2 separate regions of the Homo sapiens genome follow, and region 1 is linked to region 2. The links come from fine-mapping of genetic effects on gene expression. Tissue or cell type: putamen. Region 2 holds a variant in brackets; the other region holds the start of a gene. All regions are shown on one strand. Distances are from middle to middle.

Region 1 (4,181 bases), 360 kb before region 2:
CATAGAGACTTCTCAAAGGAACACAAGCTTCCTACTCCCTCTCACAGGTGTGTTGACAAAGCTCTAGTGCTCCCAGAAAAGGAAACACATCTATCTTAAGAAAAGTGCAGAACAAAGTTAGGTTTTCCTTTTCTTGTTTTTCTTTCTTAAAGTCAGAATCACTTTGCTTACCAAAAAATTAGCATATATGTGGATATTGGGATACTTATTATTGGAAGTTGACTTGAAGAAATTTCCACACACACACACACACACACACACACACACAAATAAAACCTTCAATTTCTCATGGTGAAAAAAACAGCGAAGTAGTTTTTGAAAATCTCCACAGGCCATGTTTTAGAGGATAAATATTATTTACTGATATTCCTAACAAATGGGATGCCATTTGATACTAAAAAGGCTCATATATGCATATCAACAACGCTAGAGCATATATCAGGTTTTGTTTCATAAGCCAAAACACCAGTCTGAGGAGTCCCAGGAAATTCGGAATTATCTTCAGTGCATTGGGTGGGCTTGAAATTTATCTTAAGAAATATTTGCAAAGGGCATAACAAAGTGCTCCAAACTGGCGCAGGCAAATGGATTAGTTCCTTTACCAGGAACCCCTGACCCTGTTGTCAGCACCCTGGCACCTTGCCCTGCGCATAGAGTTTTCAGCAGAAACACTGGGCCCTAGGGTGGGGTCGGGGGGTTACTCTGAAATCTTCCAGACGCCCCTGGCCGCTCGGATTCGCCTGTGTGAACCTCTCAGCACTCCACCAAAAACTCCCAGAAAATCCTTCACCTCTTCTAGGAAGCCACCCTGTAGCATTTCCAGGATCCTTCACGGAACAGAGTCCCCACCACCTGGCTGGCTGCCCCCACTGCTGCTCCAGTGGCGGGGCCTGACCCTCACTCCCTGCCCCGCCCAGCCCCCAGCGCTGCGCTGTCCCCGCGCTCACCGGATGATCACGAACATGACCAGCGAGTTGCCCACCAAGCCCACGACGAACACTACGGAGTAGACCGCCGTGATGATGACCGGGATGGCCGGGGAGATGTGCGCGGGCTCCAGCTGCGCGTCCTCCGAGCCGGCGCTGCCGTTGCTGTCGGGCTCGGCCCAGCCGGGAAACCAGGCGCTGCTGTTGGGGGGCAGGCAGGCGCTCGGGGCGCAGGTAGGGCCCGGCTCCCCGCGGAAGATCTGGATCGGGGAGTCCATGGTGGGGCGATTGCAGCAGGAAGGCGAGGACAGGCGGCACCTGCGGCGCTGCGGGAGCGAAAGAACCGGCTGGACGCGGAGAGGCAAACTTTGCCCGCGCCCTGGCCAGCGGCGCTGGGGACCCGGAGCCTGCGGACTCCCACCCGGGCCGCAAGTCGCCGGGGGCAGGACAGGGAGAACGGACTTCTCGCTGCCTTTCCGGCCAGCAGGCGCGCCGCTGGGTGCCAGAGAGGGGCGAAGAGCGCTCGCTCCTTCTCCCCCAGCCCCTGAGGTGCCTCCCTCACCAATTCTAGGCACCGGCCCCTGGTGGAACTGTCCCCAGACTGCCTGAGTCCCCAGGGTCAAGCCCCCTTCCCACCTCCCAGCACGGAGCTCTACCTAGAACTGCACCTCGAAAGCCCAAAGCTTACCTATGGTTCCCAGAGACAGGCGAAGGCGAGGTTTTTTACGGGACGCCCTGGTAGGTGCTGAACCGCGCGCTCACGAGTCCCGCTCAGCTCTTGGCATCACCTGCTCTCGGACCCCGGCCCCGCTCTCCGCCCGAGGGCTGCTGTTCCGCCGAGCGCAGCCCCCGCCTCTCAGCGCACGTCTCCCACTACTGGCGGCGGCTCTGCGGGGCGGGGCGGGGCGGGACCGGCGGGACGCAGCCGGGACGCGGCTGGGCGCTGGGGGCCTGCGGGCGGAGAGCTCGTCTGGTGCGCCCGCCCCAGGCCGGCAGGTCCCTGCCCCGCCCCGCCCGCCCGGAGTCAGCCCCCAGCTCCCCAGCCTCCCAGCCCCGCGTCCCCTCCAGCCCCGCAGGCTCGCCCGGCCCACTAACTGCCCGAGCGGCACACCGCCTGGTCCCCGGCCATGCAGCCTTCCCCAAGACCTGAGACTGAGCCATTTAGATTTAGTAAAAAGGAGGAGCATGCCTATTTAGTGCAAGTATGCACCTGGATTTTCATATTGTGTCTAGAACTTCTTATCTGCATAGTTCGCAGTCAGGAACTACGCTTATTAGAATGGCCCATCCAAAGAAAGTAACAAAATGATCCAGTTAGAATAAGACCAGTTCATAAAATAATGACTTAAAAGACACATAAATAGAATATTTCCTTGCGTTCTCTTCCATTCCGTCTGCTCTAACTGGGATGACAGGCTGCAGACAAACTGCACCTTACGGGTATTACCTGAATTGCTGATAGTATCTGAGAAGGGCAAAACACTCTCCTTACCCGGGCCTCAGTGGTGCTCCAGGGAGGTGACAGTGTCTCTGTTTTACATTAATCCCTGCAGCCATCACGTTCTCCTCACTTCTCCCTCACAGTAGGGCTGCCTCCATTATACGGCCGCGAATCTGAGCGTCCGTAAATAAACTGTCACCATCATTTCTTTGCAAAACTCTGCTAGTCCAAGGGTAGCTGTCAGATCCTGCTGAGTGAGAGACATTCTCTTCTCAGGCAAAGGGACCGGCAAGACACAAAGGGAGCAAGGGCTCAGCCCCTGAGGTGAAGGTTCTGAAAGGGAGTGGGGAAGTTCCCCTTCTCCACAGGGTACTGGAGACAGGCCTGGGGGAGACTGGGGGTTTAGGCACCTCAATTTCCCCAGTGGATTCACTGCCTCAGGCTGACAAACACAGGTCCCCACTGCATCCCACAGCTAATGTCCATGCCACACCTGGACACACTAATGACTGATACAGCCCTTCCCTCCATCAGCGGAGGGCAGAAGGGGGTTCCTGTCTCTTTCAAGACGCCATGACCCCAAAGTGGGATTTGACCACCAGCGTCTTGCCGCCTGGAGATGAACAACTCTTTTGAGCAGTGTAATATGAAGAGCATAAGGAAATCTTCCCTTTGTTCAACCATATCCCTTCAACCCTTTCAAATAATTTTGAAAATTATTATCAAGTCTTAGAGTTCTTTTAAGTCTGATTGCAAACTGTCATTGAAGGATCACATCTCCTTCAGTAACACATCAGACCTGCTGAGACCTCATAAGGGCCTCAGTAGTTTTATTTCATTTGAGCACTCTTACCTTTCTTGTTTACCAAATTAATGGCCAAAATAAAGGGAAGACAAAATGAACAGAGCATTGAGAAGCCCTCAGGTGGCTCAGGTTGCCAGGGGAACCCACTCGAGTCTCTAAATCCAGGAAGTATGGCTGCTTCTGTGGAGTCATGCTCTTAGGAGTATGCAATTTTATCATAATATCAGATAAAAGCTCATAAAATAGAAAGGAAAAGTAAACTGCTAAAATGCTATATACTGTTACACACTGATATAAAGCACATGTGGTTATACTTGGCCATTCTACTCAATGCAAACACTATGCTTATAACTAAGTACATGGAAAGCACTTTTAAAGATGAAAATGTGGAGATTTTTATTGGATAATGCTACAATGCTAAGGAGCATCCTGGGTAGTGGGTGGCTTTGACATTTTTGTTAGATAGACTAGATAACCCACCAGTAAATTGCAATTAACTCCCTTTCTTGTGGCTCCAACAACAGATATTGTTGTGCAGCAATGAGTGCAGAGCTGGAGGGAGCAACTTCATTAGCTTAAGACCCCAGTGCAGCCAATGGAGTCTTGCTGAGCCGGGATGCAGCTGGCTTCAGCTCACTTCACTCAGCAGATATTGCAGAGTATCCCCAAGTGGCTGAAGAAAAGGCACCCTCTGGGGATACAACAATACCAACACAGAGACAATCTCTTCTCAAAGAGGATGTGAAGCTAGTGTGACACATGGGATCTAAATTTTTTTAATGTTAGGAATAATTAATAAATAATTAATAACAAATTCATCCAACTCTGGCAAATGTTATGTGGAAAGGTGTTTAATAAACAGTGATAGCCAGTGCAGCAAATTTGCATGAAATTTAAAAATAGCATCCCTTTCATAAGGCACTTTACTTAGATCTGTCAGCAAGTTGTTATAATAAATACCCAAATCAGTCTTGTCTTCGGTGTGAAGCATACTGTGAGATACTGCACA
Region 2 (4,181 bases):
TGATCCTGTGTCTTTAAACTGCAGCCCTGGAAACGTTCACCTAAAAAGACAAGGCCCCTGGGAGTGAACCCTGCAAAGCCAGGGAGCCTGGCAGTGTCTGCGGGTTCGCGATGTATGAAGAGCCTCTGGCAGGTCAGTGGGTGCGTGCACCGTGCACCAGTGAAGCAGGGCGAGGCATTGCCTCACTCGGGAAGCGCAAGGGGTCAGGGAGTTCCCTTTCCTAGTCAAAGAAAGGGGTGACGGATGGCACCTGGAAAATCGGGTCACTCCCACCCGAATACTGCGCTTTTCCGACGGGCTTAAAAAACCGCACACCATGAGATTATATCCGGCACCTGGCTCAGAGGGTCCTACGCCCACGGAGTCTCGCTGATTGCTAGCACAGCAGTCTGAGATCAAACTGCAAGGCGGCAGCGAGACTGGGGGAGGGGCACCAGCCATTGCCCAGGCTTGCTTAGGTAAACAAAGCAGCCAGGAAGCTGGAACTGGGTGGAGCCCACCACAGCTCAAGGAGGCCTGCCTGCCTCTCTAGGCTCCACCTCTGGGGGCAGGGCACAGACAAACAAAAAGACAGCAGTAACCTCTGCAGACTTAAATGTCCCTGTCTGACAGCTTTGAAGAGAGCAGTGGTTCTCCCAGTACGCAGCTGGAGATCTGAGAATGGGCAGACTGCCTCCTCAAGTGGGTCCCTGACCCCTGACCCCCGAGCAGCCTAACTGGGAGGCACCCCCACAGCAGGGGCACACTGACACCTCATACGGCAGGGTACTCCAACAGACCTGCAGCTGAGGGTCCTGTCTGTTAGAAGGAAAACTAACAAACAGAAAGGACATCCACACCAAAAACCCATCTGTACATCACCATCATCAGGGACCAAAAGTAGATAAAACCACAAAGATGGGGAAAAAACAGAACAGAAAAACTGGAAACTAAAATGCAGAGCGCCTCTCCTCCTCCAAAGGAACGCAGTTCCTCACCAGCAATGGAACAAAGCTGGACAGAGAACGACTTTGACGAGCTGAGAGAAGAAGGCTTCAGATGATCAAATTACTCTGAGCTACGGGAGGACATTCAAACCAAAGGCAAAGAAGTAGAAAACTTTGAAAAAAATTTAGAAGAATGTATAACTAGAATAACCAATACAGAGAAGTGCTTAAAGGAGCTGATGGAGCTGAAAACCAAGGCTCAAGAACTACGTGAAGAATGCAGAAGCCTCAGGAGCCGATGCGATCAACTGGAAGAAAGGGTATCAGTGATGGAAGATGAAATGAATGAAATGAAGCGAGAAGGGAAGTTTAGAGAAAAAAGAATACAAAAGAAATGAGCAAAGCCTCCAAGAAATATGGGACTATGTGAAAAGACCAAATCTACGTCGGATTGGTGTACCTGAAAATGACGGGGAGAATGGAACCAAGTTGGAAAACACTCTGCAGGATATTATCCAGGAGAACTTCCCCAATCTAGCAAGGCAGGCCAACGTTCAGATTCAGGAAATACAGAGAACACCACAAAGATACTCCTCGAGAAGAGCAACTCCAAGACACATAATTGTCAGATTCACCAAAGTTGAAATGAAGGAAAAAATGTTAAGGGCAGCCAGAGAGAAAGGTCGGGTTACCCTCAAAAGGAAGCCCATCAGACTAACAGTGGATCTCTTGGCAGAAACCCTACAAGCCAGAAGAGAGTGGGGGCCAATGTTCAACATTCTTAAAGAAAAGAATTTTCAACCCAGAATTTCATATCCAGCCAAACTAAGCTTCAGAAGTGAAGGAGAAATAAAATACTTTACAGACAAGCAAATGCTGAGAGATTTTGTCACCACCAGGCCTGCTCTAAAAGAGCTCCTGAAGGAAGCACTAAACATGGAAAGGAACAACCGGTACCAGCCACTGCAAAATCATGCCAAAATGTAAAGACCATCGAGACTAGGAAGAAACTGCATCAACTAACGAGCAAA[A/C]TAACCAGCTAACATCATCATGACAGGATCAAATTCACACATAACAATATTAACTTTAAATGTAAATGGACTAAATGCTCCAATTAAAAGACACAGACTGGCAAATTGGATAAAGAGTCAAGACCCATCAGTGTGCTGTATTCAGGAAACCCATCTCACGTGCAGAGACACACATGGGCTCAAAATAAAAGGATGGAGGAAGTTCTACCAAGCAAATGGAAAACAAAAAAAGGCAGGGGTTGCAATCCTAGTCTCTGATAAAACAGACTTTAAACCAATAAAGATCAAAAGAGACAAAGAAGGCCATTACATAATGGTAAAGGGATCAATTCAACAAGAAGAGCTAACTATCCTAAATATATATGCACCCACTACAGGAGCACCCAGATTCATAAAGCAAGTCCTGAGTGACCTACAAAGAGACTTAGACTCCCACACAATAATAATGGGAGACTTTAACACCCCACTGTCAACATTAGACAGATCAACGAGACAGAAAGTCAACAAGGATACCCAGGAATTAAACGCAGCTCTGCACCAAGTGGACCTAATAGACATCTACAGAACTCTCCACCCCAAATCAACAGAATATACATTTTTTTCAGCACCACACCACACCTATTCCAAAATTGACTACATACTTGGAAGTAAAGCTCTCCTCACCAAATGTAAAAGAACAGAAATTATAACAAACTATCTCTCAGACCACAGTGCAATCAAACTAGAACTCAGGATTAAGAAACTCACTCAAAACTGCTCAACTACATGGAAACTGAACAACCTGCTCCTGAATGACTACTGGGGACATAACGAAATGAAGGCAGAAATAAAGATGTTTTTTGAAACCAATGAGAACAAAGACACAACATACCAGAATCTCTGGTTTGCATTCAAAGCAGTGTGTAGAGGGAAATTTATACCACTAAATGCCCACAAGAGAAAGCAGGAAAGATCCAAAATTGACACCCTAACATCACAATTAAAAGAACTAGAAAAGCAAGAGCAAACACATTCAAAAGCTAGCAGAAGGCAAGAAATAACTAAAATCAGAGCAGAACAGAAGGAAATAGAGACACAAAAAACCCTTTAAAAAATTAATGAATCCAGGAGCTGGTTTTTTGAAAGGATCAACAAAATAAATAGACCACTAGTGAGACTAATAAAGAAGAAAAGAGAGAAGAATCAAATAGATGCAATAAAAAATGATAAAGGGGATATCACCACCGATCCCACAGAAATACAAACTACCATCAGAGAATACTACAAACACCTCTACGCAAATAAACTAGAAAATCTAGAAGAAATGGATAAATTCCTTGACACATACACTCTCCCAAGACTAAACCAGGAAGAAGTTGAATCTCTGAATAGACCAATAACAGGATCTGAAATTGTGGCAATAATCAATAGCTTACCAACCAAAAAGAGTCCAGGACCAGATGGATTCACAGCCGAATTCTACCAGAGGTACAAGGAGGAACTGGTACCATTCCTTCTGAAACTATTCCAATCAATAGAAAAAGAGGGAATCCTCCCTAACTCATTTTATGAGGCCAGCATCGTTCTGATACCAAAGCCTGGCAGAGACACAACCAAAAAAGAGAATTTTAGACCAATATCCTTGATGAACATCGATGCAAAAATCCTCAATAAAATACTGGCAAAACGAATCCAGTAGCACATCAAAAAGCTTATCCACCATGATCAAGTGGGCTTCATCCCTGGGATGCAAGGCTTGTTCAATATATGCAAATCAATAAATGTAATCCAGCATATAAACAGAGCCAAAGACAAAAACCACATGATTATCTCAATAGATGCAGAAAAGGCCTTTGACAAAATTCAACAACCCTAAGAACTCTCAATAAATTAGCTATTGATGGGACGTATTTCAAAATAATAAGAGCTATCTATGACAAACCCACAGCCAATATCATACTGAATGGGCAAAAACTGGAAGCATTCCCTTTGAAAACTGGCACAAGACAGGGATGCCCTCTCTCACCACTCCTATTCAACATAGTGTTGGAAGTTCTGGCCAGGGCAATTAGGCAGGCGAAGGAAATAAAGGGTATTCAATTAGGAAAAGAGGAAGTCAAATTGTCCCTGTTTGCAGATGACATGATTGTATATCTAGAAAACCCCATTGTCTCAGCCCAAAATCTCCTTAAGCTGATAAGCAACTTCAGCAAAGTCTCAGGATACAAAATCAATGTACAAAAAT

Which allele goes with the higher level. Positions count from the first base shown, and alleles are read on the strand shown. Sizes are in standard deviations (SD) of each study's normalised expression.
For the expression in putamen of the gene that starts at base 1,804 in region 1, allele C in region 2 goes with a lower level than allele A (large effect, 0.79 SD a copy in GTEx).

What was found. PIP is the estimated chance that this variant, and not a neighbour inherited with it, causes the effect.
Region 1: OPRK1 starts here. The variant in region 2 is the best candidate, but not a certain one, in a credible set for the expression of OPRK1 in putamen (GTEx, PIP 0.86).

Annotation. Positions count from the first base shown.
Region 1 is chr8:53,249,834-53,254,014 of GRCh38, forward strand. It overlaps OPRK1 (opioid receptor kappa 1), which reads right to left and starts at 1,804. Exons shown (of 4, transcript NM_000912.5): 1 at 1,615-1,804; 2 at 948-1,252. The coding sequence starts at 1,204.
Region 2 is chr8:53,609,516-53,613,696 of GRCh38, forward strand. No RefSeq gene overlaps it. Among named protein-coding and RNA genes, the nearest start is that of LINC02984, 88 kb to the left of the region's middle. RefSeq lists an enhancer at 19-683. The variant A/C (reference allele first, on the strand shown) is at 1,958.